Regions from separate parts of the Homo sapiens genome. Here region 1 is linked to region 2. The links come from fine-mapping of genetic effects on gene expression. Tissue or cell type: whole blood. Region 2 holds a variant in brackets; the other region holds the start of a gene. All regions are shown on one strand. Distances are between the middles of the regions.

What was found.
Region 1: it holds the start of BRD1, and the variant in region 2 is fine-mapped to the expression of BRD1 in whole blood (TOPMed, PIP above 0.99).

The regions. Positions count from the first base shown.
Region 1 is chr22:49,820,081-49,835,551 of GRCh38, forward strand. BRD1 (bromodomain containing 1) reads right to left here and starts at 7,793. Exons shown (of 13, transcript NM_001304808.3): 1 at 7,417-7,793; 2 at 2,871-4,251. The coding sequence starts at 4,237. It overlaps LOC105377205 (a long non-coding RNA gene), which reads right to left. Exons shown (of 5, transcript NR_188597.1): 5 at 12,369-13,607. RefSeq lists enhancers at 4,469-5,048, 6,258-6,457 and silencers at 6,958-7,127, 7,858-7,927.
Region 2 is chr22:49,840,814-49,856,284 of GRCh38, forward strand. It overlaps ZBED4 (zinc finger BED-type containing 4), which reads left to right and starts at 13,031. Exons shown (of 2, transcript NM_014838.3): 1 at 13,031-13,176. It overlaps LOC124905156 (basic proline-rich protein-like), which reads right to left and starts at 8,839. Exons shown (of 3, transcript XM_047441701.1): 1 at 8,785-8,839; 2 at 7,607-8,741; 3 at 4,447-5,584. The coding sequence starts at 8,839. The coding sequence ends at 7,708. LOC105373091 (sterile alpha motif domain-containing protein 1-like) reads left to right here and starts at 8,777. Exons shown (of 2, transcript XM_011530661.3): 1 at 8,777-9,267; 2 at 9,369-9,857. The coding sequence starts at 8,935. The coding sequence ends at 9,857. It overlaps LOC105377205 (a long non-coding RNA gene), which reads right to left and starts at 12,699. Exons shown (of 5, transcript NR_188597.1): 1 at 11,623-12,699; 2 at 10,269-10,394. It also overlaps LOC124905147. RefSeq lists silencers at 12,379-12,468, 12,489-13,218, 13,389-13,678. The variant G/T (reference allele first, on the strand shown) is at 8,092.

The DNA of each region.
Region 1 (15,471 bases), 21 kb before region 2:
GATCACCGCACTGCACTGCAGCCTGGGCAACAAAGCAAGACTCCACCTCAAAAAAAAGGGGGGAAAAAAAAGAACTATCTTTTTTACTTGAAATTTTAATTTTTTAAACCACTAGAATTATAAAAGCAGTCCGTCCCTGAAGGCAGATTCTGTTCTGTCCACAGGGAATAAGGAAGATCCTCTTTCTCTAAAATCTCTAAAACGCTGCTCAGATGGGGTCTCATCTCCCTTCCAGCGTGACTGGCTGGCCTGAAGCATAACATCCTCAGATGCTCTAGGTGGGTCCTACACCGGAGCCATTGGTTAGTGCACACCATAACCAACTAGACTCAGCATCCCCGCCCACGGCTGCACATCAAGAAGCTTCACCATGGGCCAGGCACAGTGGCTCGTGCCTGTATTCCCAGCTGAGGCTGGGAGGAGGCTGAGGCGGGAAGATCGCTTGAGTCCAAGAGTTTGAGGCTACTGTAAGCCATGATCACGCCACTGCACTCCAACGTGGGCAACAGAACAAGACCCTGTCTCTAAACATAAAATAAAAAATAAGAAGCTTCACCCTCATCTACACAGAATTCAAATGCACAGCTGAGGCCTCCTACATGCACCCAGGGGTAGTGCCCAGGGCCTAAGAACAGGGCTGCCAGATCAGCTGCCTCTCAGACCACAGCAAGGCAGTAAACCCGGTTTCAGGCAGCAGTCAGTACTGTATTGAGAGCCTGCCCCTCACAACCACCCCAGAGGTGGGTCCAGCACCATGGTGCCAACAGGCCAGGCGCACTGGGAGCTCCTCCACTGGTGGCAAGGTGGCCTGAAGCACCAGCATCTCCTGGAGACTGGGAAACCCAGACTGCAGAGACCGCGGCCAGGAACACTCGTCCAGGTTTGTTTCTCTCTCTCTACTCGAAGCTGAAATAATAGTTTATTCCCAAGTTAGGAAAAGAACAGAACCACACAGTACGCGGTTTAGCTCCAATACATGCTTTCAAATATTTAGGTCGAGTTTTCTTCTCAATCAGCCCTGGCCACTTCAGCCCCCATGTCCTGCATGCAAACACTGCCTCCTTCAGTCCTGCCTACCCAACATCAGGAGCCAAAGAACAGAGAGCGTGCGGCCCGGCCAGGCCCGGCCTCTCCCAGAGCAGGTCATCATCTGGTACTGGCCAGGGAAGGGAGCACTTCAGACTTTTGGCTCTTCATTTTGTTAGATCACATTTTGTTTATTTTGCTTCAATTTCAGTAAAGCTGAAATTTTTAGACCTCTTATACAGAAGCTCTTAATACAAACCCTAGACTTTTTGACTCATAGGTAGAAATCCAAGCAAAACCATCTCTTCAAAGTCAGATTAATTTACAAAGACAAACACCTTGGTTTTGACAGGGTTTTCCCTGGATGGGAAGGATTATGAGCATTTTTTGTTCATTCTGTCTGAATTGACTAATTATCTGAGTATTTACAGCTCTGTGAAAAGAAACTGGACTTCACTTTGGTAAAGTAGAGTAATATTAACAAAAATCACTTAAAACTTCTTTTTTTTTTTTTGAGACACAGTTTCACTCTGTCACGCAGGCTGCGGTACAGTAGCACAATCTTAGCTCACTGCAACCTCCCAGCCTCACCGCCCGATGCAGCTCAGCCTGCATGCGTCCCACCTGTGCTGTCCTCCCCTCACATGTGGGGCAGGTCTGACACCTCAGAGGGTCCTGCTCACTGACCCCCGGCAGTCCTGGAGGGTCTGTGTGGTACTGGGGCTCTAGGCGTCTCCCCCAGCCAAGCTGCAAGCTCAGCACCAGGCTGGCTCTACCCGCCCTGTTGACCGGCAGGCCCCATCTGTGCTCACAGCTCCTCCCCTTGTTTGGCCACCCTTTCCTCAGGGCATCTGCAGCAAGTGGGGGGCACAGCACGGGAAACGGGGCCAAGGCCACAGCAGTGGATGTCCCGATGCCGGCAGTCACTGGGAAGCCCAGGCCAGAGCCCCTCGGGTTGAAAGTCATACAGAGTTCCTGCGTGGGCTTCATTCCTTCTTAAAGTTTAGTCACTGAAATTCTTAAAAATCTTCACGCACGGCTGGGCATGGTGGCTCACGCCTATAGTCCTAGCACTTTGGGATGCAGAGGCAGGCAGACTGCCTGAGCTCAGGAGTTCCAGACCACCCTGGGCAACATGGTGAAACCCCGCCTCTACTAAAAATACAAAATTAGCTGGGCATGGGAGCACACGCCTGTAGTCCCAGCTACTCAGGAGGCTGAGACACAAGAATTGCTGGAACCTGGCAGCAGAGGTTGCAGAGAGCTGAAATCGTGCCACTACACTCCAGCCTGGGCAACAGAGCAAAACCCTATTTAAAAAAAAAAAAGGCTGAGCAAGTGCTGTAATTCCAGCACTTTGGGAAGCCAAGGCGGGCAGATCACTTGAGGTCAGGCGTTTGAGACCAGCCTAGCCAACATGGTGAAACCCCGTCTCTACTTAAAAAATACAAAAATTTGTCGGGCATGGTGGCGCACGCCTGCAGTCCCAGCTACTCAGGAGTCTGAGGCAGGAGAATTGCTTGAACCCAGGAGGCGGGGGTTGCAGTGAGCTGAGATTGCGCCACTATACTCCAGCCTGGGCGACAGAGTAAAACTCCGTCTCCAAAAAAAAAAACATAGAAAACTACAGATTATTCCAAGCCTACAGACTAAAATCTTTTACAACATCTATTCCCCAAAAAGACGTGGTAAACAAGCAGAACCACACTTCAGGGGAATATTAGGAAGCTGCGCCAACTAGAAACGCAATGACCACACAGCACGGGCCCTGCAGGCTGTGCCCACGTCCTCCCAGGGTCCCACACTGCAGGCTCCTTGTGGACTCAATGCTTGGACACGCTTACCTCTGCGGGGGAATATAAGGAGCGCACACGGTCGGCAGGACCGCGCAGGGCTCAGCCAGAGCTTTCTTAGCCTTTTTTGCCTTCTTCCTGACCTTGGATGTGGACCTGACCGTTTTAACCGAGCTCTCTTTTCGACAGACGCCATTTTTCATTTCGACATCCCCGTAAATATTCAGAGGCCTCCGGGTGCAGCCTGGAGGCGTGTGGACATCACAGTAAGCGGTCTTTCTGACGGAGAAGGTGGTGCCACCGCCAGTCAGTTCCTTCACGGGCTCCATTTTCATGTACAGGCCAGCCTTCTGGGCACACGTCACATGGAATGCTGTGTAGCAGTTTGCTTTGTGGCACTGGATGCAGGCACCCACGCCCTTCTGCTTACAGAGGTAGCATGTCAGTTTCCACCGGGCTGGAGGGATGTTCCTCACCCCATCGATGGGCTCGATGAACACCGTGTTGGCAAAGCCGACCTCTGGGATCCACAGGGCACACACCACGTGACCCCAGCGGTCGTCATCTGTCTTTTTGAAGGCACCACCCTTGTTGGGGCACAGCACACAGTCGGCGGGCCGGGCCCGCGACTGCAGGCAGTGGCGGCAGAGCCACTGGCCCTCGGGGATGTAGGGCACCCCGTAGCACTCCTGGTGCACGGCCAGGTTGCACATGTCGCAGAAGAGGATCACGTTGCTGTTCTGACACTCCCCGTCCATGCAGATGCAGCACACGGCGTCCTCGTCGATCAGAGACTGCTGCTCGCCCTGCTTCTGGTTCTCGCAGTGCGACTCCTTCTCGAAGCGGTCCATCAGGAACTCAAACATGCTCTGCGACACGGCGGGGACGCAGTCGCCCTTGCGCTTCTCATTGACGATCTCCAGCCAGGCATAGTCCTCCTCGTCCATGTCATACTCCACCTCGTTGTCCAGTTCCTCGGCCGACTTCTCGATGAACTTGTAGTACACAGGAGGCCTCCTGGGGGCGGACGGAGGGCTGTACTCCACGATGCGCACCTTGGGCTCCGGGAGGGCACTGGCCGAGGCCGGCGTGCCGTGGGCGCTGGGGAGGGCCTCGTTTTTCTTTTTGACTCTGTTGTTTTTGTGACGCTTAGTTCTTAAGCAGACAGGAGGCCGCTCGCTGTTTTCCTTGTTGCTGTTGCACTCACTCATCTCTTGAGCAGTGAGGTCATCTTCCAATATGATCTCCAGGGGATCAAAAATACTGATCCTGTGCAAGCGCCCTTCAATTTCTATCTCTACCATCCTTTGAGCTTGAGCGTAGGTCAGCGTTTCTCGCGTAGGGGAGTGTTTAACACTGCATGGGGAAGAAGGATGCCTCGCTGCAGAGCCTCGATGACATCGTCCTTTCCTCCTCATTTGGTAATGATTACCTAAAATGAAGGCAAAAGTAAAGGTAATTCTACGCAGGGTGACCAAAGACTCGAGAAAACCACAAAAGCATGCTTGGACAGATCTAGCTCAGCAGCTCAAAGCCCAATCAAAGCAAAACTCACAGCTAACCTCTTTCCAAGGTGTCCAAAACCACACATCCAGGCCTGAGCGAGTCCCCAGGACCAGGGAGGGAGCAGCAGTAACAGGCAGAGAGGCAGCCTGAGGAGCCCTCCTGAGCACCTGCGTCCCTACCACCACACACCAGTCCCCTCTCAGACCACACCAACAGGCTGCGGAGACCACAGCAACGCTCCCCAAGGAGGAGGGGTCCGGCCCAGAGCCCACAGTTGCAGGACTTTCCCAGCATGCAGGCGGTCCCCCAGGAAGTCCACATACAGGGCTGGACCCCACCAGGCACAGAGGCTATGCCCACCAGACAGGCATGCTCAGTGGCTACCTGGTCCTATCGGATGCTCCCCCTAAACCACTCTTCCCCTCCCCACTACTCCCAGGAGAGCACTCCCATGAGCCCAGAGTCACCACAGTCCTTGCAGCATTCCTGCTGGGGCCAGGGGTAGGAGACAGATCACAGCCTGTCCATCCTCTATAGACAGGCCCTCCACACGCACAACACGGCACAGGGGACCAACAGGGGAGCCCTGTACTGGTCTGAGGGGACAGTCTTGGCCCCTGGGAGGCCCCAACCCCGCTTCTGCAGAGCCTTGGCAGTGACCACCATGGAAACCACCACAGGCTGAGCCAACCTGCCCCTTCCCCTCAGGGGCACTCCTCAAGCCCCACTGAGACCATGGTGCTGGCCACGTCCTCCTCCTTCCACGTCCTCCTCCTTTCTGAGAGAATCCAGACACATGCATGACGCCAAAGGGAATCTCTGTTCTCCCCGGCACACGTGAAGGCAGACGCTCCACTCAGGCTCCACAGCGAGGGGTGACCCCCAGGAACCCCTCGCTGCTTGCAGAGACCCTCACCAGGAGGGTCGCCAGCGCTGGCTCAGGTGCCTGAAGACTTGGCCACAGAGGCTTAGGAGAATCTGCTTTTCCAGAGGTAGGCAAAACCAGTGAGCTGCCTCCCATACCTCCAGCTCCTCGTGGCAGAGGCCTCTGCTGTCCCAACACCACGGACTGCGTCTATTCCTAGCTGTCCCCAGGGTGCCTGGTGTGTGGACACCTCCTGTGAAGACCACCGCCTGCTGGGCAGTGCCTCCCTCCAAAGCGCCACACTTCACTGACAGGAAGCAAAATGATTTTTCAGTGACTGACTCGCAAAACAAATATTCTCAGCTGAAGCCCAAGGCATACTCTGCATCTAGCCCTGCCACGTCAGGGACGCCTGGCCTCGGGGCCCAGGGGGATCAGGGGCACCCACAGCAGCCTTACCCTGATCTATTGGGCCTGAGAAAAAGCCCTCAGGGAGCAGGCTTCCCTCTGTGAGTCCCGAAAGGAAATCCCAGCAGACTTCAAGAGCACTTCTTAAGACAGACCCTCCAGACACTGGGTATCTTTCTCTGTATCAGACAGAAATCCTCATTGTATGTTGAAACTAGATTGCAATTACCTACAGAAAGGAATAGGAGAGAAAATGTGGTCGGCCAAACCTCAGACCCCCTGCATCTCCAGGGCCTCCAGGTACCCACTCAACCCTGGATTCCTGGGGAGCTGTCAGCACAGCCACCCCCCAGCCGGCCCCGTGAGCCCTGCAGAGGTGACACCACAGCCTGCAGAGAGCGACCCTAGTGCACCCGGGACGCCGACACGCGTCATTACTGAGGTGGGGCAGAAGCAACAGTTGGTTACTCACCAGATCAGAAACGAACCTGTCATTTTCCCCTCGACAGCAAAGTCCTGAGTCGCCCTAACGACAAGCAGCCCCTGGAAACCCACTCTCTCCCAGGGAGCCGTGAAGCTCTTCATCGCAACACTTTCTACAAGGGGAGAACTGAACCGAAGGCTTCACGGCCACAGCAGCTCCATACCCTCAACATGCAACTGGGACCCGGGGAAAGTAGGCCCTCAGCAGGGCAGGGCGACCCACGACCTCCTCTGCTTCACCGCTTCCCCCCTGGGCCGGTTCTGTCCCTGGCCCTTCCACTGGGACAAGCATTTCCACTGGGAGGGATCCGCGGGGGCACACACGTAGCTTCTCAAGGAATAATTCCCTTAAGTACATCGAAGAGCCCTGCGGGCCACAGGCGGGGAAGGCTGCCCACAAGACGGCCGCTTCCATCTTCCCACCGCCCGCCCAGGGAGAAGCCGGCCACGCGCCGGGCCTCTCGGTCAAGGCCACAGGGGCCGCGGCCGCTGAGCTGTGCGAAGTTGTGTGCAGCACACAGCACTCGGGACGGCGCTGGGCCGGCCAAACAAAAACATCCGCCGATTCCACTAACTACACAACCACCTGGCGACAGACCCTCAAAAACAGACACGGGCGGCCGCGCTTTCTGGGGAGACGGGGCCGCACCCCGCGGGGCAGGGGGTCCCGCTGCTACGGATTCTCAGAACTCCCGCGTCCGCTCACAAGAGCCGCGTTTCCCGTGAACTGCGCCTCAATCGTGTCACTCGTTTTAAAAGGCCCGGGGAAGCCTCGCGTTCGTCGCGAGGCGTCTCCCTGCAAACGCCCGGGGAGGCCGCGGTGCCGGTTCCCAAGCCCGGCCGCCGCAGGCCGCGCGGCTCCTGGGCGATCTCGGGGCGCGTCCCTGCTCACAGGGAGTTCCCGTCTTGGCAGAGCTCGGCGGGCCTGTCTGTTACATAAGGGGCGGCCCGGCCGGCTCGGCGGCTGCCCGAGGCCCGACCCGACTCGAGCGCGGACTCCGGGCAGGCGCCCGCGGCCCAGGCCGCCGAGACCCACAGCCCGACTCGGCCTCCCTCGACTCCCCGGCCTGACCTACCCGGTCTCCCCGCCCGGCCTCCCCGTCTTCCCGCCCGTCTCCCCGGCCGCCCGGCCCGACCTCCCCGGTCTCCCCGCCCGGCCTCCCCGGCATCCCGGGCTCCCGGCCCGCAGACAATGCGGAGCCGCCGCCGCCGCCGCCGCCGCCAAACATGGCGTCGGCACCACAACCCCGAGAGGCCGGGCCGAGGCGGCGGCGGCGGCCGGGCGGCCCGCGAGGCGGCGGGGAGGCCTCCCCGGCCAGGCCCCCGCCCACTCACCTTCGGGGCGCCGCGGCCGCGGGAGCCCGGCAAGCGGGCGGGCGCGGGGGCCGGCGCGGCCGAGGCGGTGCTAATGGCGCCCGCGGCTCCTCCGCCAACGGCCGCGCAGGCCGGGCCCCGCCGCCGCTCCTGGGCGCGGGCCCCTCTCGGCCGCGGCGGCTCCGGGCCCGGCAGCGGCGGCCGCGGACTCTCGGGCAGCGGCTCGCGCGGCGCGGGCTCGGGCTCGGGGCCCAGCTGGAGGCCCGGCTCGGGGGGCCCGGCCGGCGGGCGCGGGCGCGGGCGCGGGAGCGGGCGGCGGGCGGCGGGCGCGGGACGCGGGGCTGGCTCGGACTCCAGGGCCGGGTCGCTCGCTCGCTCCCCAGCGAAGCAAACAATGCGGCGAGCGCTCCGCCCGGCGCGCTGCGTGCGAGACGCGCCCCGCCCGCCGCCGCCATGACGCGCGGACTCCGCTGCCTCGGCCGCGCGCGGGGGAGGGGGCGCCGCGAGGAGCGGGGGCCAAAGGGGGCCCTGAGGCGGCGGGGACCGGGCTGGGAGTGGGGGGTCGGGAGGATGGAGAGTGGGGGCCCTTGAGTTAGGGAGGACCGGGCCAGAAGGTCCCTGAGGGGGTCAGGAGGATGGAGAATGAGGGGCCCTGAGGCAGGGGGACGTAGGCCTAGGAGTGGGGGGCCCCGAGGCAGGTGGGGAGCAGCCGGGAGTCGGGGGCTTTGAAGCAGGGGGGTACCGGCTGGGAGTGGGGGTCCCTGAGGCAGAAGGGCATTGGCCCAGGAGTGGGGTCGCTGAGGCAGGAGATGGCCCAGGAGTGGGCGGCTCTGAGGCAGGGGCTACCACCGGCCTGGAGTGGGGGGCCCACAGGCGGGGGGACGGGCCGGGAGTGGGGGTACCTGAGGCAGAAGGACATTGGCCCGGGAGTGGGGGGCCCCGAGGCAGGATGGGGGAGCAGCCGCCAGTCGGGGGCCCTGACGGGGGAACGGCCAGGAGTGGGGGTCCCTGAGGCGGGGGGGACCAGCTGAGAGTGGGAGTCCCTGAGGCAGAAGGCCATTGGCCCAGGAATGGGGGGCCCTGAGGCAGGGGGCGATTGGCCCACGAGTTGGTGGGGGCCTGAGGCAGGGGGCGATTGGCCCACGAGTGGGGGGAGGCCTGAGGCAGGGGGCGATTGGCCCATGAGTGGGGGGCCCTGAGGCAGGAGGCTATTGGTCCGGGAGTGGAGGTCCCTAAGAGGACAGAGGGGGCCCTGCGGGGGCACTGGGTGGGAGTGGAAAGGGCACTGGCCGGGACACGCGACTAGGTAGAGGTGGGTGGTGCAGCCGGGCTGGGGAGCCTCCCCTAGTGAGTGTCAGGCCCGGTGTGCAAGTAGTCCTGCCAGTGTGAGGGCCCTGCCGAGGCCGGCGTGAAGCAGATGCCCTTTAAGGTTGCAAGAAAAGGCCCCTGCGGGTGGGAGTTGAGAGGCCTGAGTCTCTGCCTTCACTTTGGCCTTTTGTGTAAACTCTAAAATTCAGTGGGGTCATAACAATTTTCACTCCAAGATTAAATCCCAAATGTTTTAAGGTGAGGCAGGAGCTCCTTGGTTTCCTTGAGAATTTGTGATCAGGACGATGGTGCTGTGGAATCCCTGGGTTCCAGCAGCACAGCCTGTGGCATCCAGGCAGGCCCCTCAGGAAGAGCAGCTGTCCACCCTGGGACAGACCGTCCCCACGGGGGCAGCCGAGCGGCCCCACTGCTCGGGGCACTGCACCAAACACCTTATTGGGAGTGGGGTGGCCTTGTTCGCCCAAGTGTCCCTGATAGGGGCCAGGCCCCACAGGCCTTTTCCTGGCCAGTCCTCATGCCCATGGCACCCAGTGTGTGGGTTGTGACGTGACGACTCAAGGGCAGGTAGGACCCCAGCCAAGGCCCCAGTGGTCAGTCCTGATCTAGGACTCCCTGCAGACACACCCTTGAGCTTAGGGGGTACAGGCCACTGGGGCCCTGACCTCTTCTGCACCAGACCCAGGAGCTTCGTGTCACCTCCATTCTACAGATGTCTGTTTACCTGTGGCCAAACAAGCAAGCTGAGCCCGAACGCTTCTCTCCTCCACCTCAGGGAAGCCAGATGGAAACCAAGCTGGAGGTTCTCCACAACACAGAGCAAAAGTAAGACACAGTCTCATGAAAGAGAAGATGAAAAGACACGAAACCCTTCACAGAAGAGGAGACGGGGACAGTGGCCTCTCAGACAATGCAGGTGATGCTCAGAGGAGTGAAGAACAAAGCCTCGAACGTAGGCATGTCACAGGGATACTCAGGAAGGCCTTCGGAGAGGATCTTCTTTAGAATTCAGACTCATCCTACAGAGGAGGGGTTGCCAAAATACTAAGAGAATTGAACCGTAACTCATACACAGTGAAACTAGCGTTCCAGTGAGACAGCAAAATAAAGGTGTCTTCACCGCCGGTTAACATCCACATTTACCACACACGCAGTCTGTAAAAGTACTAGAAGAAATACCTTAACAAAGTGAAAAGTGGACCCAAGAGTAAGACGTGGATGCCAGCAAGTAAATCAGTCTGGTCCGTTAAAAGAAAATCAACCTGAGAGAAATCCCGGATGAACTCAACATGACACATGGTAAGGCGGGGCGCAGAAGGAAGTGAAAGTGCACGAAAGCTCTTGTATTGTTTGGTTCGAGGATTTTAGAATCGATAGAAAAAAAGGTTAAAAATTTTAGCTGGGCATGGTGGCTCACACCTGTAATCCCAGCACTTTGGGAGGCCGAGGCGGGCAGACTACCTGAGGTCGGGAGTTCAAGACCAGCCTGATCAACATGGAGAAACCCCATCTCTACTAAAAATACAAAAAAAAAAAAATTAGCCGGGCGTGGCGGCGCATGCCTGTAATCCCACTACTTGGGAGGCTGAGGCAGGAGAATTGGTTGAAACTGGGAGGTGGAGGTTACAGTGAGCTGAGATGGTGCCATTGCACTCCAGCCTGGGCAACAAGAGCAAAACTCCATCTCAAAAAAACAAAAAAAAAAAGTTTTAACTATCAGAAAGTTTCCACAAGAATGGTGGAAAAAGAATTTACCACTTTCAGAACAGCTGAGGAAAAAGCGAAATGAAAAACGACAGCAGCAACAACAAAAAAAAAACAGGAATGAGTAAAAGATAAAATCATGATAAATACAGAACATAATATGAGTTGGCAGAACTAAGTTCAAACATTTGAGTAATCAGAGGAATGTGATTGGATTAAATGCATCTATTAAAAGACAACCTCTCTGAATGGAATATAAATATGGTGAAATATTCTTACAAGAAATTCACCTGAAAAATAACAGATGAAAAATAAAACGATGGGGCCAGGCACAGTGGCTCATGCCTGTAATCCCAACACTTTGGGAGACCGAGGCAGGTGCATCACCTGAGGTCAGGAGTTCAAGACCTGACCAACATAGTGAAACCCCATCTCTACTAAAAATAGAAAAATTAGCCAGGCATGGGGGCACGTGCCTGTAATCCCAGCTACTCAGGAGGCTGAGGCAGGAGAATCACTTGAACCCAGGAGGCTGAGGTTGCAGTGAGGCAAGATTGCCCCACTGCACTCCAGCCTGAGTGACAGAGCAAGACTCCATTTCGTAAATGAAAGGATGGAAATTATCATATGTTTGTTCCTCAAAAGGCACCATAAAGAGACTGAAGAATGAAAAACTAAAAGATATGTACACCTTGCAGATGATTAGTATTTAGAATATATAGAGAACCCCTTCAGATCCATTAGAAAGAGACAAACAAGCCAACAAAATGATGCACAAAACCCAAATCAACAAAGAAACCCATGTCATAATCAGGCTTCTTGCAGAGAACATGGAAAGGCCAATCATCTTACTAGTAAATTTGGAAATGCAAACAAAATACACACCAAATAGGCACCAGCGTTCATATGTGGCAATACTCAGCGATGGCAAGATGGCAGAGCAATACCCTGCTGGCCAGAATGTCGAGTGGGACAATTATTTGGTAAATATCTTGGTCATAAGGCGTTACCCAGTGAAAGTGGACATGTTTATCAGTTACCTCTTGCTGCAAAACAAACCACCCCCAAAACTTTGTAGCTCAAAACAGCAGTCATTCCTTTTGTTCACACATCTGCTATTTGGGCAGGATTCAGCAGGTACAACTAGACTACTTCCTGCATCCTTATCTGGGGCACCTCCACTAGGGGCTGGAGGAGCCACTTCCAAGATGGTGCACTCACGTGGCTGGGACCTTGATCCAGGCTCTGGGCTGAGGGCCTTGGGAACATCCTCATGGAATAGTAGCCATGCTGCAGGAGCAAGGGTCTCAAGAGAAGCAGGTGGGACCTGTATCACTTTTCACATCCTAGCTTCTGAAGTCACACGCATCACTTCTGCCATAGGGACAAGCCTGTCCAGATTCAAGAGTTAGGGAGAATACAGACCCCACCTCTTGGGACATGTGTTATCATCACATTTTAAGAGAAGCATGCTGTATGGGAGAAGTTGTTGTGGCCACTTTGAGAAGATGCAAGCTCCCCCAGTGTGCATACCCATTCCCGGCTGTAGGGTTAAGTCAATTTGTATTCCTAGGTGCATTCCGTGCCTGGGTGTGTGCCTAAGAAACCTGTTCATCAGGGCCGGGCGCCGTGGCTCACGCCTGTAATCCCAGCAGTTTGGGAGGCTGAGGCAGGCAGATCATGAGGTCAGGAGATTGAGACCATCCTGGCTAACACGGTGAAACCCCATCTCTACTAAAAATACAAAAAATTAGCCAGGAGGCTGAGGCAGGAGAATGGTGTGAACCCAGGAGGCAGAGTTTGCAGTGAGCAGAGATTGCGCCACTGCACTCCAGCCTGGGCAACAGAGCAAGACTCCATCTAAAAAAAAAAAAAAAAAAAGAAAAGAAAAAAAGAAACTTGTTCATCAGGAAGCATGTGCATGAATGTTCAGAGCAACACTGTTTTTGGTGTTTTTTTTTTTTTATTTTAACGCTGTTTTTAATAGCAAATACTGGGAGAAATCTTAAATATCAAAGGACGGTAAAATGGACAAAGTGAGGTGTATCCACGCAATGGAATAGCACACAGCAACAGAAATGAATGAATTCCACCACCAACACGGCCAAATCTCAAACACATAATTTTAAATGGAAGAAAGAAATCTCAAAAGATTACAGAATATGATTCCATTTACACTCAGCAGACAGAGCTAGGAAATAAGTATGTACAAACACACACACACACACACACACACACACACACACACACACACACACACCCATATCTTTTCTGATACCTCTTAGCAAACCTTGAGTTCATACTGATACCTGTACCTCCAGTTACAATCTAGCATGGAGTTGATTCTACCCTCCTCTGTTTCTACATAACTATCTATGCCTTCACTTAGTAGCTCAGTCCCCCGCTACATAACCATCTCTAGGCTATACAGGACAGAAACTTGGCCCCAGACACAACCACTGCCCCCCATTTTGCACCAGCCAAAAATGCGGTTCTGGGGGCATCACTGCTCTCCAGAATGGTTATATCTGCAGGCTGAAAGCACAGCCCAAGAAAAGGCAAGGAGGAGGATGCTCATGTTGTTTCTGATATTCTGTTTCTGGCAGGAATAAGACAAAACCCTTCTTCTTTGATCTATCTCACCTTTAATTTATTTAATTTTTATTTTTACCCGGTATCTGCAACAATCTACTTTAGGAGACTATCCTTTCACAAACATTAAAACGTTCTTTAAATGGTGTTTTTCTCACTTCAGAATTCAGGAAAAATAGTTTTACTGACATTTACTTTTAATAAAAACGTAGTAATTTGCATTGTTGCAGTAGAAATTTGTCCTCCTTGTCACCAGGATATAATCAGACAAATTAATAGTGGAGCCCAGGCCTTACATGGGTGTCATATTTGAGAATAACTTTCCTGTGCTTCCACAACACGCCCACCTTTAAGGAACAAGGGTTGTGGCTTGTGTGCTGAACCAATGCCCACACAACCCTCAGACCCATACTGGCCGGGCACCTGTACTCTGGCACACAAAGCCTCAGCCTCACAAGTAGTAAGAAGGATACTTCCTGGCAGGCCAAGAGCCATGGCAGACACTGGAACCTTCTGGAAGATAGAAACTTGCACACACACAGGTCCCGCGGGCACACCTGAGGGAGGTGGATTTGGTTCGGCTTCCTGGCCTAGGAACAGAAGAGCAAATAAGAGAAATTAAAAAACAAAAAATCTCAGGTGTGATGTAGGCTCAGTCCTACATTCCTTATGATGACACGTCCAGACAGAAGTTGATTTTCCGGCTTGGTCATTGCATAACGCCATCTGGTTTACATGTGTCACCTAACAAGGACACTCGTGCGTGGTAATTACCACTTCTTGCAGCACCTGTGTAGATGAATTAGGTCAGAATGCAAGACTAGCTTTCTGTGGTCAAGAATAACCTTCGGAGATTATTTATCATCCCAAGAGGGAGCTAATAAAAATGTCCCAGATTAAGGATTAGACACCCCAAAATGAGTGTGTCCATTCAGTGGCAGGCTATGTTCCTGAGCAAGCCTGCCAGGCAGATTTTCGGATCCTCTGGAGTGTGCGCCTGCTTAACTTGCTATATACTATTGATTACGATATTTTACAACTCAGCAAGGGTAGACTTTAATTTGTTGAAGATAGATGGCTAAGTAAAATTATTCCTCTCTGACAGCAATGCAAATAAATTTTGCCCAGTAGTGAGTGATAGAAATTATTTCTGTCCAGTGGAAAAGATTACAGTAAAAAAGGTTGCAGTTTGACTGGGCGCAGTGGCTCACGCCTGTAATCCCAGCACTTTGGGAGGCCAAGGTGGGAGGATCACCTGAGGTCAGGAGTTCGAGACCAGCCTGGCCAACATGGTGAACCCTTGTCTCTACTAAAAATACAAAAATCAGCCGGGCGTGGTGGTGGGCGCCTGTAATCCCAGCTACTCAGGAGGCTGAGGCAGGAGAATTGCTTGAACCTGGGAGGCGGAGGTTGCAGTGAGCTGAGATCAAGCTATTGCACTCCAGCCCGGGCGACAGAACAAGACTCCATCTCAAAAAAAAAAGAAAAGAAAAAAAGAAAAGGTTGCGGTTTATGGCCCTGTAGAACATTAACCAGTTTTTTTAAAAATCTAAATAAGCAGAATTACTCAAACTTTTTTAAGTCACTACAAATACTTCCTTCTCTCCAATCTTTTGAACCAGCCTCACCATCATGCTGGTTTCCTCATTAATGATTAAAATAAATCTTTGACACGTCTTCACTTTAGAGTTGTATGAGTCATGTTTTTAACTTTTTTTTTTTTTAAGACGGAGTCTCGCTCTGTCACCCAGGCTGGAGTGCAGTGGCGCGATCTCAGCTCACAGCAAACTCCACCTCCCAGGTTCATGCCATTCTCCTGCCTCAGCCTCCCAAGTAGCTGGGACTACAGGCACCCACCACCACGCCCGGCTAATTTTTTTTTTTTTTTTTGTATTTTTAGTAGAGAAGGGGTTTCACCATGTTAGCCAGGATGGTCTCGATCTCCTGACCTCGTGATCCGCCCACCTCGGCCTGCCAAAGTGCTGGGATTACACGCGTGAGCCACCGCGCCTGGCCCTGTTTCTAACTTTTTAAAAAGTATGCTTTGACAGCTCCAACATCTAGCTGCCTTCTCAGCCTCTCCTCCAGGATGTCCTGTAGGCATCTCGAACTCAACGTATCTGGCACTCAGCTTTTGGTCTTCATCCCCAAACTTCTCTGCTGTCTCCTTCCTCGGTTATGGGTTGAATTGTGTCCCCCCTGCAAAAGGTATGGTGAAGTCCTAAGCACAGTACCTGGGAATATGAGCTAATTTGGAAATAGGGTCTTTGCAGATATAAAGTTAGGATGAGGCCAGGTGCAGTGGCTCACGCCTGTAATCCCAGCACTTTGGGAGGCTGAGGCGGGCGGATCACCTGAGGTCAGGAGTTTGAGACCAGCCTGACCAACGTGGTGAAACCCCGACTCTACTAAAAATACAAAAATTAGCTGGGCATGGTGGCGCATGCCTGTAGT
Region 2 (15,471 bases):
CATGAGACCAGGAGTTCGAGACCAGCCTGGCCAACATGGTGAAACCCCATCCCTACTAAAAATACAAAAATTAGCCAGGTGTGGTGGTGGGCGCCTGTAATCCCAGCTACCCGGGAGGCTGAGGCAGGAGAATTGCTTGAACCTAGGAGGCGAGGTTGCAGTGAGCTGAGATCAAGCCATTGCACTCCAGCCTGGGCGACACAGCGAGATTCCATCTCAAAAATAAATAAATAAAAGAATAATGATAAACATAAAAATAAATTAAAAAATAATGGAATTGTCTATTTTCTATATATACTTAGTGCCACATCAGACAGTGTTATAATTTTGCTTCAACCATCCAATATGATTTTAAAAACTTATGAGAAGGCCAACCTAGTGTCTTTACCGGTGCTTACTCATTCTACCATCTTCTTTCCTCCCTGAACATTCGTTTGTTGTCATTTCTTTTTTTTTTTTTTGGAGACAGAGTCTCGCTCTGTTGCCCAGGCTGGAGTACAATGGTGCAATCTCAGATCACTGCAACCTCCCTCCACCTCCCAGGTTCAAACAATTCTCCCTGCCTCAGCCTCCCAAGTACCTGGGATTAAAAGCACACGCACGCCACCATGCCCGGCTAATTTTTTGTATTTTAGTAGAGACAAGGTTTCGCCATGTTGCCCAAGGCTGGTCTTGAACTCCTGACCTCAGGTGATCCACCCACCTCGGCCTCCCAAAGTGCTGGGATTACAGGTGTGAGCCACCACGCCCCGCCTGTTGTCTTTTCTTTTCTGTTCGGAGAATTTCCTTTACCTGTTCTTCTTCTTTTTTGAGACAGAGTCTCACTCTATCACCCAGGCTGGAGTGCAATGGCCCGATCTCTGCTCACCGCAACCTCCGCCTCCCGGGTTGAAGAGATTCTCCTGCCTCAGCCTCCCGAGTAGCTGGGATTACAGGTGCCCAATATCTCACCTGGCTCATTTTTGTATTTTTAGTAGAGATGGGGTTTCACCATGTTGGCCAGGCTGATCTTGAACTCTTGACCTCAAATGATCCACCCACCTCAGCCTCCCAGAGTGCTAGGATTATAGGCATGAGCCACCGCGCCCGGCCAGCTAGGTGTAAATTTAAGAAAACATGTATAGAACATGCTAAAAACTATGAAATGCTGATGAAAGTAATCAAAGATCCAAATAAGTGGAGAGATAAACCATCTTCACAGATTGGAAAGCTCAAATAGAAAAAGTGCCAGTTTCCCAAGTATGGTGGCTCAGACCTGTAATCCCAGCACTTTGGGAGGCTGAGGTGGGCGGATCACTTGAGGTCAGGAGTTCAAGACCAGCCTGGCCAACATGGTGAAACCCCATCTCTACTAAAAATACAAAAATGAGCCAGGCATGGTGGCAGGTGCCTGTAATCTCAGCTATTCAGGAGGCTGAGGCAGGAGAATTGCTTGATCCCAGGAGGCGGAGGTTGCAGTGGGCCGAGATCGCGCCACTGCACTCCAGCCTGGGCGATGGAACATGACTCTATCTCAAAAAAAAAAAGAAAGAAAACAAAAACACCCAAAATTGACCATAGATCTAAAACGTGAAACTATAAAACTTTTAGGAAAAACATAGGAGAAAATCTTTGGGATCTTGGGCTAGGCAAAAAGTTCTTAGGTTTGATACCAAAAGCGTGAGCCATAAAATAAAATATTGATAAAGGGAACCTCATTAAAACTAAAAACTTTTGCTCTGTGAAAGACCCTGTTCAGAGGATGAAAAGACAAGCTACAGCCTGAGAAAAAGCATTTGCACACCCCCTGTCTGACAAAGGACTGGCGTGTAGAATATAGAAAAGCTCTCAAAACTCAACAGTAAGAAATAAAAATAAGCAATCCAATAGAAAAGTCAGCAAAAGATATGAAGAGACATTTCCATGAAGGGAATATACAGAATAAACACACACCATGATGTCCATCATCCTTAGCCATTATGGAGGTGCAAACTAAAAGTGCAACAAGACATCACACCTATTCAAATGACTCATATGAAAAGCAGTAACACCACCAAACACTGGCAAAGACCTGGAGAAGCTGGGCCATTCATGCATTGCTGGTGGGAATGTAACATGGTACAGCCATTCTGGAAAACAGCTTGGCAGTTTCTTCAAAAACTAACCATCTGACTACCATGGGACCCAGCAGTTGTGCTTCTGGGCATTCATCCCCGAGAAAAAAAGACTTTTTTTTTTTTTTGAGATGGAGTTTCGCTCTTGTTGCCCAGGCTGGAGTGCAGTGGTGCGAGCTCAGCTCACTGCAACCTCTGCCTCCTGGATTTCGGCGACTCTTCTGGCTCGGCCTCTGGAGTAGCTGGGATTACAGGTGCCCACCACCACACCCGGCTAATTTTTTTGTATTTTTAGTAGAGATGGGGTTTCACCATGTTGGCCAGGCTGGTCTCAAACTCCTGACTTCATGATCTGCCCACCTCGGCCTCCCACAGTGCTGAGATTACAGACGTGAACCACCGTGCCCAAAAAATAAAGACTTTTGTTCACACCAAAACTTGTACACGAGTGTTCATAGCAGCTATATTTGTAACAGACCAAAACTGGTATCAGCCCAGATGTCCTTCAGCAGTGAATGGCTAAACACACCATAGTACTCCCATTCCACGCAGCTCTACTCAGCAGGGAAAAGGAGCAGGCCGTTGGTACATGCAACTGGGATGAAGCATCGCCAAGGAATTATGCTGAGCAAAAATAGCCGATCCAAAAATGCTACTTACTATGCGATTTTTTTATTTTTTATTTTTTATTTTTTGAGACAGAGTTTTGCTCGTTGACCAGGCTGGAGTGCAATGGCGTAAAGTCGGCTCATTGCAACCTCCGCCTCCCGGGTTCAAGCAATTCTCCTGCCTCAGCCTCCCAAGTAGCTGGAATTACAGGCGCCCACCACCACGCCCGGCTAATTTTTTGTATTTTTAGTAGAGATGGGGTTTCACCATGTTGGCCAGGCTGGTCACGAACTCCTGACCTCAGGTGATCCACCCGCCTCGGCCTCCCAAAGTGCTGGGATTACAGGCATGAGCCACTGCACTCAGCCTACTATGTGATTTTTAAATGACACAGTTTTAGAAAAGAACAGATTTGTGTTTGCCAGAGATTCATGTCAGGCTGGGGACAGGAGGGAGGCGGGTGTGACTATAGATGGACGACATGAGCAATCCTGTGGTACTGGAGCCCTTCAGCATCATGACTGTGGGTGTGCAAGCCTTGCCTGCTGATAAAATCATGCAGAATTTAATATACACATAAAAATGAGTAGACGTAGAACTGAGGTACTCTGAATAAGATCCGTGGGTCGTATTGACATCCATACCCTGGCTGTGACGTTCCACTCTAGTTTTGTAAAATGGTACCCTTGGGAAACACTGAGCAAACCATACAAGAGATCTCTCTATGCTATTATTTCTTACAATGGCATGTAAATCTACAATTATTTCAATACAATTTTGCACTGCAGCCAAGCACTGCAGCTCAAACTCGTAATCCCAGCCATTTAGGAGGCCAAGGAGAGAGGATCACTTGAGCCCAGGAGTTCAAGGCTGCATTGAGCTAGGATGGTGCCACTGCACTCCAACCTGGGGGACAGGGCAAAACCCTGTCTCAAAAAAAATAAAGATTTTAAAACTTAAAATAAATAAATATTTAAAGTTTCCTGCCAGGAATGTTTTCTAAGAAAATACCTAGAGGATCTGCAAAGGAACAAAAATGATCATGCTCCCCTGGGAACTGTTTTTGATAGGGAAAGGGACACACTTCAGATCCTTGCTGAAAGGAAAAAAAACTGTTTTCCTCTCCTCTGTCACATAGAACACTCTGCCTCCGACACCAAATGGGGGCAGAGGGTTCCCACATCAGCCACTTCTCCTAGCCCCTGGACACCAACTGCGAGTCCAGCAATTCACTCTGACACTCTCCACCTCCAGTTTGAGGCGGATCCCACAGGTTAGGGGCTCCGTCCCACAGCCTGCCCCCACTTCAGGTGCCAGTGGAAGGTCTGGGTCGCTGGTACTTCTGATCAAGCAAGTGTGATTCAGGAGTTCCTACAATCCCTTCTTTGGGTTGGATACTTTGCTACGAATAGAATGGCTTATGGACCTCAGAGAAACATGTTTGTTTGTTTGTTTGTTTGTTTGTTTATTGAGGCCCAGTTTCGCTCTTGTCGCCCAGGCTGGGGTGCAATGGCACGATCTCAGCTTACCACAACCTCTGCCTCCTGGGTTCGAGCGATTCTCCTGCCTCAGCCTTGCTAGTAGCTGGGATTGCAGGCATGCACCACCACACCTGGCTAATTTTTTATTTTTAGTAGAGACAGCGTTTCTCCATGCTGGTCAGGCTGGTCTCAAACTCCCAACCTCAGGTGATCTGCCCACCTCAGCCTCCCGAAGTGCTGGGATTACAGGCGTGAGCCACCGCGCCTGGCGAGAAACATGTTTATTATAAAAGATACGATAAAGGATAGGGATGAGGAGTCAGATGAAGGGTGCGTAAGGCGAAGTCCAGAAGCGTTCTCAGCACAGGAGCTGCCAGCCCTGGGGAGCTGGGGTGCTCCACGCCCCCCACAAAGAGATGTGTTCACCAACCTGGGAGCTCTCCAAACCCCCACTGCTGAGGGACTTTTACGGAGACGTCTTCATGTAGGCATATGGCGCATTAGGAACCGCGCCTCTAGCTAGCCCGTCTCCCCTGCTCAGAGGTGGGGGTAGGGCTGAAGCTCCAGGTTTCTCATCATGGTGTGGTCTCGCTAGTGACCAGCCCCCATCCAGGAGCCCACCAAGAGTCACCCCATTGGAACAGAAGAAGCTCCTATTATCCAGGAAATTTCAATGGTTTTAGGAGCTCTGTGTCAGGAACCAGGGGCAGAGATGAAATATCTATTTCTTATTATGTCACGATCCCACAGGACTGTGTACGTGAATGTGCCATGCAGTGTCAGGCAGCCATTCAAAATGACCCCACACTGCCATCATCAGTGGCAGGCGAGGCTCTTTGCTAAGCAAAAACAGCAGTTTAGAGAAGAGAACACACACGGTGCAAAGCCCAGAGGTGCCACATGGCTTCCTGCAGGGTTGCCATGAGTGCACTGGCTCAGCAAACGAAGCTCCTGAAATTCCAGACGAGGTGGGAGATGGGTTTCGGGGTGTCTGCAGCTTTGCCACAGATAGGAATGCTTTCTAGAGGAACTTCATCCTCGGTTCGGGATTCTTTGCTGTGGGAGTTTGGCTGGACATGAATTTGAGTGACGTCCGTTGGCCTCATGGCACCTCAGGCACAGAGATAGCCAAGTAGACAAGTGGAATCTTGCGCTGTACCTGAACCTTCCAGAAACACAGCCTACAACCTGTGACCACGAGATGTGCCACCAAAAAAGATGGCAGCTGAAGTTAGACTCCGCCGGCCCCTTCCTCCCTGCCTGGCTTCCTTGCGTTCCTTGAGTGCACTCAGAGCTCCACTCCCTGGTTAGCAGTCAGGCCTCAGCTACGGCGCTGCCTCAACTCTGTAAAGTTCTGCACGTAGCTCCTAGGTTCTGCAGGGGGTGATTTTTGCTCTTGTCCTGAAGAATAACAACAGCATTTTAACAAGTGTTTGAAATAAAGATGGCACACATTTAGGCCAGGCACAGTGGCTTGCGCCTGTAATCCCAGCTACTCCAGAGGCTGAGGTGGGAGAACCCCTTGAGCCTAGGAGATTCAGGCTGTAGTGAGCCGACATCAAGCCACTGCATTCCAGCCTGGGTGACAGAGCAAGACTCTGTCTCTAAAAAAAAAATAATAAATTATATATATATATGTACTCTTTTCTTTTGCCCAGGCTGGAGTGCAGTTGTGCGATCTCGGCTCACTACAGCCGACATGAACACTGCAGCCTCAAACTCCTGGGTTCAAGTGATCTTCCCATCTCGGTCTCCCAGTGTTGGAAGTACAGGTGTGAGCCACCATGTTGGCCTTCTTTTTTAAATATATGGTCATATATAAAACCTAGGCAATGCCAGCTGGGCGCTGTGGCTCACGCCTCTAATCCCAGCACTTTGGGAGGCTGAGGCAGGTGGATCATGGGGTCAGGAGATCGAGACCAGCCTGGCTAACACGGTGAAACCCCATCTCTACTGAAAACACAAAAAATTAGCCAGGCATGGTGGCATGCGCCTGTAGTCCCAGCTACTCGGGAGGCTGAGGCTGGAGAATCGCTTGAACCCGGGAGGTGGAGGTTGCATTGAGTCGAGATTGTGCCACCGCACTCCAGCCTGGGTGACAGAACAAGACTCCGTCTCAAAAAACAAACAAACAAAAAACTAGGCAATGCCAGGTGCAGTGACTCATGCCTGTAATCCCAGGACTTTGAGAGCCCGAGGCAGGCAGGTTGTTTGAGCCCAGGAGTTCAAGACCAGCCTGGGCAACGTGATGAAACCCCGTCTCTACTAAAAATACAAAAATTAGCCAGGTGCCTGTACTCCCAGCTACTCAGGAGGCTGAGGTGGGAGGACTGCTTGAGTCTGGGAAGTTGAGGCTGCACTGAGCTGTGATCACACCACCGCATTCCAGCATGGACAACAGAGCAAGACCCCGACTCAAGGTAACAAACAAAAAACAAAAACCCTGGGCAATATACACCTAATTGTTCTTAAAGTTATTCCTTTAGGGATGTGTCATAAGTAGTTTTTTCACCTTTTTACATACTTTTGCTGTTGACTGGACTATATACAGAGAACAACATGCCTGTTATGATTAGGGTTGCAGATAAAATACGGTACAATCAGTTACATTTTAATTCCAGATAATAATTTTTTAGTATATGTACGTGCTGTGCACTTTTTTTTTTTTTTAGACAGAGATTCGCTTTTGTCGCCCAGCCTGGATGGCCCAATCTTGACTCACTGCAACCTTCGCCTCCCGGGTTCGAGCGATTCTCCTGCCTCAGCCTCCCTGGTAGCTGGGATTACAGGAGCACGCCACCATGCTCCGCTAATTTTGTATTTTTCGTAGAGACGGGGTTTCACCATGTTGGTTAGGCTGGTCTGGAACTCCCAACCTCAGGTAATCCGCCCACCTCGGCCTCCCAAACTGCTGGGATTACAGGCGTGAGCCACCGCGCCCGTCCGGTCCCACGCAATTTTGTATTTTTATCCACCAAATCTGGCAGTCCCAGCTATGAACACAAGCTCCAAATGCCTTTCCACCCATGGACCCTCAGACAGAACCAAGGCCACCGCAGCCTGGAGCAGCTGCCGCCCCCACCCTTCCCAGCGCGTTCCCTTAACCCCCTTGCGTTCCAGCTCCCCCGGCTCCAGCACCTTCGTGACCTGAGCACCGGCGGGCTCCTGCTCACTGTCCAGCACCCGACGCACCTGTCCCCGCCGCGCAGTCCCTTCCCCCCGGCCTGAGCTTCCCTCCCGGCGCGCACTGCCCTTGTGACCCTTTCCCTCCCCGGCCACAGATGCAGCTCTCGGCCAGAAGCTCCACTTCCCCGAGGCCCTCGCCCCTGCCAGGCAGCTCCCCTGCGGCGTCGCCCACCCAGAGTTCTCCCCCTGGACGCTCCCTCAGTGCCCCCCTAGCAGCCCCGGCGGTCTTCTCCCCACCTTCAGCCCCCTCCCCGGTCCCCCAGGAAGGGGCCAGACTCCAGCTCAGCACCCAGCGCTTCCTGGTCTTTCCCTTCTGGGCGCCCTCCCGACAGTTCCCTTTAGGGAAGTTGGCCCGCTGCGCGCTCCCACCCCCGGCCGCCGCCTGGACAGAGGCGCGCAATCCGGAGGGCGCAGGCTCCGGCCCGGAGAAGGGGGTGCCGCCGGCGTTCCGATTTCTCAGGAATGGGGAAACAGAGGCACGGTGGATCCGGCGGCGGGGCTGGGTCTGGGGCTGGACGTTGACCTAGGACCCCGCCCCTGCCCGCCCTGCGCCGCGCCCCTCCCGGGCCGGCCTTGACCGAGCAGCTCCACGCGGGCCCGGGGCTCGTCCACCCGACAGGAGCGGGGGGCTGCAGCCCACGAGCCCACGAGCCCGCAGCGACGCACCCGGAGTGTAACCTCGCAGAGTCACGGAGACACTTTCCCGGTGTGGGCGCCTCGCC[G/T]CGCTTCCTCCCCGCGGGCTGCGGCCACCCCAGGGCAGGACAGAGCCGAGATGCCCGGGTGGGAGCGATGCCCGCGTGGGGGCGATGCAACGGGGGAGATGCCTGGGGGGAGGGTGGTAAGGTGAAACCTGGTGGAGAACAATGGGGGTGGGTGGGCGATTCCTGGGGAGGTGCCCGGTGTGGGGTGTTTCTGGTTCGCCCGGGGACAGTGCGCGTCCCCTCGCCCGCGGCGCCCGCCCTGCCCGTCCCACCGAGGTCCCCCGGGAGCGTCTGGGCCCACGGCTTCGGGGGGTTTCTCCGAGACCTGGGCGCTGTTCTGGGGGAGCAGGGGCCCGGGCCACCAAGGTTCGTGCGGACCGTGGGGTGTCCCACGCCCAGGCCGGGGGATCCCAGAGCCCCGCTTCCCTCAAGGGCGCCGCGCCCCGGACTGCAGGTGGAGACGGGGACCGGCCCCGCGGGGTCGCCGACAGGCGCGGGGCGGGACAGGGTGGGAGGCGGCGGGGCGCAGAGTCCTCCGGTCGCCGGCGCGATCCGGGCACCTTCCTGGAGGCGGCGGGAGCGCGGTCGCGGCGCCTCCGGGGTGGGGTCCAGGTTGGAGGCTCCGGGGCGCACCGCCCTAGCCCCACCCCGGCCGGGTCCCCGCGCTGCCTCTGCGGAGAGGGAGGAAGGAAGGAAGGCAGGGAGGGAGGGGACGGCCGGCAGGCGTGGGGTCCGCGGCGTCAGGGCTCCTTCCTCCCGTCCGCTCCATCCTGCAACCCGTAGCCCGGGCGGGGTCTCGCTGCCCCCTCCCCGAACACAGCCGCCTTTTCCTCCCTCCCCAACCCCGAGCGCCTCCCTTCCCGAATGCGGGAGTCCATAGTGCACGGGAAGCCTCTTCCCCTCCCCACCGAGGCTGCCCGACGCCCCTTCCACCCTCCGACCCCCCGCAACCATCCCTCAAATGCCCCGGCGGCCAGCAGGGCTGGGGTGGGCGCAGGAGAACCAGGGGTCCTGCCCGCATGCAGGGGTTTGGGGTCGGTGTGGCCGAATGAACGCGCGGGTTCAGACGAGCCTGTGATGCCCCCGCTTTCCATCTCCTCGCGACCTGGCCCCAGAAGACAGTCTGAGAGGCCGGTGGCCGCGGATCCTGGACGCGCTTCCCTCCTGCCTGTGGTTTCCCTTTATTCCGGCAGCGCTGTGAGTCCACCCTTCACTCATAGGAGCCACATCCAGAACCTTCTCCTGGGGCCACAGCGTGGGCTTCCGATACCTGTGTGACCCCAGCTCTGCCCCTTCAGGGCTGCGTGGTGAAGCCCTCAGGACCCTCCGCGTGGGTTGGGCGGGTGACGTGGATGAGGGACAACGTGGTGAGGTCCCCGTCGTGGCGAAGAGTGACCAGTAGGTGCCCAGGGCCCAACCCTCCTCTGCACCCGAGAGAAACCATCTCCTCTGCAGCAGCCCCCACCTGGACGCTCTGGAGTCCTCCCCACCTCCCTCCCCAGTGGGGCGCACAGCATTCTTGCTACCCTGAAAGGCAGACGGGAGGCACAGGGTGGCAGAGGGGGGCCAGGTCTGAGATTCCAGATGGAAGGGACCATGGGGCTCCACCCCACCACCACTGTAGGCAGGGGACTGGCAGGTGTACACCCTTACTCCCGCGGGGCCCAGGGACACAGCCACCCTCCTTTGAGGCCCTGGCCCTCAGGACCCTGCCACAGCGAGGTCTGTGCCTCCCCAGTGACCAGTGGTCACCGGGCTCGGGGTCACCCAGCTGCTTCCACATGTGACACCATCAGCTCCATGCCCTACCCCCAAGCTGGGCTCATAATCTTAATTCACAGCTAAGAAACTCAACCAAAGTCACATCACATGAGGGCGAACCCTCCAGGGCCACAGTGCTCCAAGCACGGAGGGCTCCCTGCCTTCGGAAGATGCTGTGGGTCCACCTGCAGCCTCAGTGGACAGAGGACCAGGGCACCAGCTGCTCTTCTGCCTCAGTGCGGAGCATCCCTGACTCGCACTGCCCTGTACAGGTGGGGCTCACAGTCTGTGCATGGAACTCAGATAAAACACCTGGCCCTGGGATGTCACACTTTGGTTCAGATGAATGAAAAAATAAGATACTGACACTCTGGATGACTAAGAATCGACTTATGTCTTTCCCGTGATGGGAAACTGTCCCATGAAAAGCCACTTACATGTTTGGATGGTCCTGTAGAAAATATTTTTTCTTCTCCTTATCGCAGTCTCTATGATGCATAAGAATGCAATTTAAGACAAACAGCAAATAAATACCATCTGTGTATGTACCAAGCACTTGCAGACTGAAAAAAAAAAAAGAAAAAGAAAAAATAAGATATTGTATCTTGGGCACACAGAAAGTGCCCATCAAAGATTAAATGAATGGACTGCAGCTGGTGGAGGCATGGGGTACTGGCTTGCCGAAACAGTCCCAGTTGATGCTGGGTCCTGGCCCCATGATGTCTAGTGTGCCCTTCCATGCTCCAGGGTGCCCCATTTGGGCACTTAGTCCAAGGGCCACCCGACATACAAAACAGTATCTTCCTGTGAGGGGCCAGAGAATAGGCCGCACCTGGCTGCCCTGCACAATTTGGAAGGCACTAGGAGGGACCTGTCAACCTGCACTCACTCACTCACCGGCAGGCCCCTTTGGGAAGAGCTGTTGCTCTTTGGCCCCAGGAATCTTCTATTTCTGCACATGAGTGCCAGGCAATTGTGGGGCCCCATTAACCTACTCCACAAAGCGTAGGGGGCCTTGCTCTCGGCACTGGGCATGCTCCCTCAGCACATACAACAAAGAAGTCCCCCCTCCCACTGATTCTAGCAGGAGGCTGTTGGGGGGCAGTCATGACACAGGCATATACAGTGTGTCAGATGTGTCAGAGCCCGGAGAGGGGATGAGGAGAGCGCAGTGTTACTTCCTAGAGCATGGCCCCGGAGAGCCTCCCACTATGCTGACATATGGGCAGCCGTCTGGGAGCTTGACACTGGCAGAGGGGAAGAGCAGTCCAGGCAGACAAGAAGTCAGTGCGAAGACCCCAAAGCAAGCATCAAGGAGGCTGGGGGCTGCTGCAGATCTGATGAGGGGATGGCAGGGGCAGAGCAGGCCTGAGAACACTGGCCTCCACTCTGAATGAAACAGGGATCCCCAGGCCGGGCACGGTGGCTCATGCCTGTAATCCCAGCACTTTGGGAGGCCAAGGCGGGCGGATCACAAGATCAGGAGATCGAGACCATCCTGGTCAACATGGTGAAACCCCATCTCTACTAAAAATACATAAATTAGCTGGGCGTGGTGGCGAGCGCCTGTAGTCTCAGCTACTCTGGAGGCTGAGGCAGGAGAATCGCTTGAACCCGGGAGGCGGAGGTTGCAGTGAGCCGAGATCACGCTACCGCACTCCAGCCTGGGGACAGAGCGAGACTCTGTCTCAGAAAGAAAAAAAAAAGAAAAAGAAAGAAACAGGGAGCCCTTTTTGGGTGTCAGTGCCTGGTCTCAACTCCATAGCTATGGTGGAAGGTAAAGCAGTTTACCTTTTAACTACATGAACAAGCATGGTGGTGTTCCAGTTGAACTCCTTAGGAAACCGACATTTTAATTTAATTTTTTTTTGGAGACGGAGTCTTGCTCTGTCACCCAGACTGGAGTGCAGTGGCGCGATCTCGGCTCACTGCAACCTCTGCCTCCCGGGTTCAAGCGATTCTTCTGCCTCAGTCTCCCGAGTATCTGGGATTACAGGAGCCCACCACCACGTCTGGCTAATTTTTTATTTTTTTTCAGTAGAGACGGGGTTTCTCCATGTTGGCCAGGCTGGTCTCGAACTCCTGATCTCAGGTGATCCACCCGCCTCGGCCTCCCAAAGTGCAGGGATTACAGGCGTGAGCCACCGTGCCCGGCCGATATTTGAATGTCATATACTTTTCATATATGCTAAAATACTGTTTTAATTCTCCCCCAACCTCTTAAAAACGAGAAAAGCATTCTTAGCTCAGGCACCATAGAAAACCCGGCTGCAGGCTGGACGTGGACTTTGGAACAGTCGGCGTGCGGGTGAAGGGGCACAGCCGCGGGGCAGGGGCGGGCTCCGGGCAGAGGCGGCCGTGATAACTCCACGCTCCCGCTCCAGCCGGTGACCGCCACGCGGGCTCCTCTCACTCTCACACTCAGGCCGAGAAAATGCCGAAAGCCGTGTCACCAACGGGGGACCTCGGGGCCACATTCAGCATGCAGAGTTTATTTGGTCTGCTCAAACATTTGTGTTAGGAAATAACACATTAAAAGTGCACATTTCCTTCAGACCCTGAGAAGCGGGCGAGTCCCGTGCGCTCCGCACCGCCAGCCCCGGCCCCGCGCTCGCCCAGAGGGCCGCCCTCCTCCCGCCGACCCGGCTTGGGGCTTAGGCGTTAATCCCGTCCCCCGGGGGGGCCGCGCGGGGAGCCCCGATCGCCTTAGGGTCAACGGCTTAGGTCCCAGCCCACGAGGCCTGACCGCACCGCACTGAGCGGCCTCTGCGCCAGGTAAGGGGGTTCGGGGCGGGACCGGGAACCGCGCTGCTAGCCGTCCCGGAAACCCGCGGTGGGCCGTTGGGTGCGCGCCGAGCCGCTGCCAACTGCCAAGCCACGGGACGAAACCAAGGCGCCCGCGCCCCGCCCAGCCAGAGCGCCTAAGCCCTTCCCGTCGCCCGCCAGCGCCGGAGCGCCCACTGCGCCTGCGTAGTTTGCCCTCCTGGACCCGGGGGCGGAGCCGAAGCGCGCATTGCGCCTGCGTCTTCCGCCCGACCCCGCCCCAGCGGCCGGGCCTCCGGCGCTCCGTCCTCCCGCCCGGCCAGGGACGAGGCGGGGCGGGTACGCGGACACTGCGCCTGCGAGAGTAGGCCCCGCCCCCGATCGGCCCCGCCCCCGGCCAGCCCCGCCCCGCGCCGCGCGGGGCCCTGGGAGGGGCGCAGCGTCCGGCGGCGTCGCGGGCGGCGGGCGGCGGGGCCGCGGGAGGGGCGCGGGGGCAGACAAAGCCGCGGTAATGAATGGAGCGTCCGCCCGCGCCGCCGTCGTCCGCAGCCGGCCGGGAGCCGCCCCAGAGGCCGGGCCGAGGTGAGTGCGCGGGCGCCGCCGCCCCGCCGCCTGCCGCGAGCCCCGTCCCCCGCGGACCGCGCCGGGGCCGGGCCGGGCCGCGCCATTGTCTGCGCCGCGCCGGGGCCAGGGCCGGGGCCAGGCGGGCGGGGGCGCGGTTCCGTGGCCTCGGGGTCCCCGCCCGGCGCCGCCCCGGACCCGCCCCCGCGCGGACCCCGGCCCTGACAGCTGGCGCGGGGGCGGCGCCGACTGAGCGGCCGAGTGCCGGGGGTCGGCGCCCGGCCTGGCCCACGTGCCCGCGCCGTTGCTTCCGGGCGGACGGGACGGGGCTCGGGCTCGGGGCGCCGCCCGGGTCCGCCGGGAGCGCGCTGTCCCGGCCACGTCGAGTTAACCCCGCGAGCCCCGTCCCTGGGACTTCTCTGGACGTGTCATTCCCGTCCCACCTCCAGGAAGGGCCACCTGGGCCCTGCTTCATGTCTCAGCCCAGACGGGTCCTTGCGACGCGCCCCGAGGCAGGTTATTGTACGTGGTTCTGGGGATGACCGTTCACATTTAATGAATAAAAATGTAACTTGCCTTGCGAACCATAATTTCAAATGTTTTTCGACTGCAGTGGTTTTCCTACACCCAAATGAGCTCGCAGTCAGTTTTGTTTCTTCTTTTGTCCCGTTGTGTGGCCCACACCGCCTTCGTTGCTAAGAGAATCGCAGCCCCTCGGGCTCCCTTCTGCGCCTTTCTATTCCGGGTGGCCCTGGTAGACCCGGGCACCTCTGTGGAAACACGTCCCGGCCAAGCTGAGCCGTCAGAAGCTTCTGTTGGTGTTCTCGTGTTGGTCGAAAGGGAAGTTATTTATTTTGAAGTTAACTCTGATCAGATTACGTTTTTAGAAATCCATTCAGACCTCATAGTGAGGCCAGTTTGGTAAAGCAAGGGCATCCTGCGACTTTTTACACAGAAATGTTTTTTATTTTTTCTGTGTATGTCATTCATAGTGACAAAATTGAGGCTAGGAAGGATTTGGTTGGGATTTTTTTTTAAGTGCTATGAATAAGCCACATTTTGATTATGAATTAATTGCAATTACTAAACAAAGTTACTTTGCAAGAGGAAAGTTTACAGGAGTTTGATTCCATACTCCGAGGGTTTCCAATGGGACGTCCGTACAAGGCTGCACACTTCCCGTAGTCCTTAAACGGATTATATCTGCTTGTCATGATTGGCTTTTTTTCAAGAAAAGATCTAGCACAAGTTAAGAGAGATTCTGTGAATCTTGAAAAAGCTTCAGAGGCCCGGTCTTTGAGGTGAGGACACAGTTAATCTATATGGAAAGAAACCTAAGACTTTTAGTCCACTTGACAGGTGGTTACAGGGTCTCCCCCAACACACACTCTTGTCCAGGTAATTCCTGAATAAGGTGGTTGATGTTGTTGGATGTAAAACCTCTGCTCTTTAAGGTTACCTCCTCCCCAACCCCCTCCACACACACAGTGAGTAACTCAGCTGTGCAAAGTATGTCCATAACACCTTGCAGAAAGACTAAAAAAATTACTAGGGGAGCGGACTGACTTCTGTGTGTGTGCAGAGGAGCTGAGAAGCAGCTTCTTTAGCGAAAGGTGTGTGTGTGTGTGTGTCTCAGATCCTTGGTGAGGAGCCCTGGGGAGTGGACTCCTGGCGGCATGAGGAGCAGGAAGTGACCGTGGTCAGTGCCGTCCTTCACTTTGTTTTGCGTTTTTTTCTTTGCCTGGCTTTAGCTTCTGGTCTCATTCTCTTTGGTGTGGTGGTTGTCTTTTGAGAGGAGGGAGCAGGTGAAACAGCTGGGCGTGGCTTTGCCCAGCCCTGGGGTAGAGGCCAAGCTGGCCCTTCCTTACCAACGTTGTTTCCTTCACTGTTTAAATCTCAGGACCTGAGAATGTACCTATAGGAATTGCTCTTATTTACATTTGGCTGTGTAAGAAAGTCACTGTGCCTTTAGCCCGTGACACCCCTTAGCGGTTTGGTTTTGGCTTTCTCTTTTAGTGTCTGTGGATTCCAGCAGCTCTCTGGCTTCAGCCCTTTCAAGGATTCGGGCCTCTCTGCATCCCAGCCTTCCAGGCCCTTCTGCTCCCCACTTTTTAGCACCTAGGTTTTTCTACATTCTGCAGTACCTCAGATCCCTTCCTTGGTCATCACTGGATATGTGCTTTTGTAGTTCAAATTCTGGGAGGCATTGTTAGGAATAAAATAAGCTCTTTGCCATTTCTGAGGCGGAGGGGAGCAGGAGAGACAGAGGTGCTTGCCTCTCTGCCTGCTGGGGCCATGGTGGTTTTCAAAGAAGGC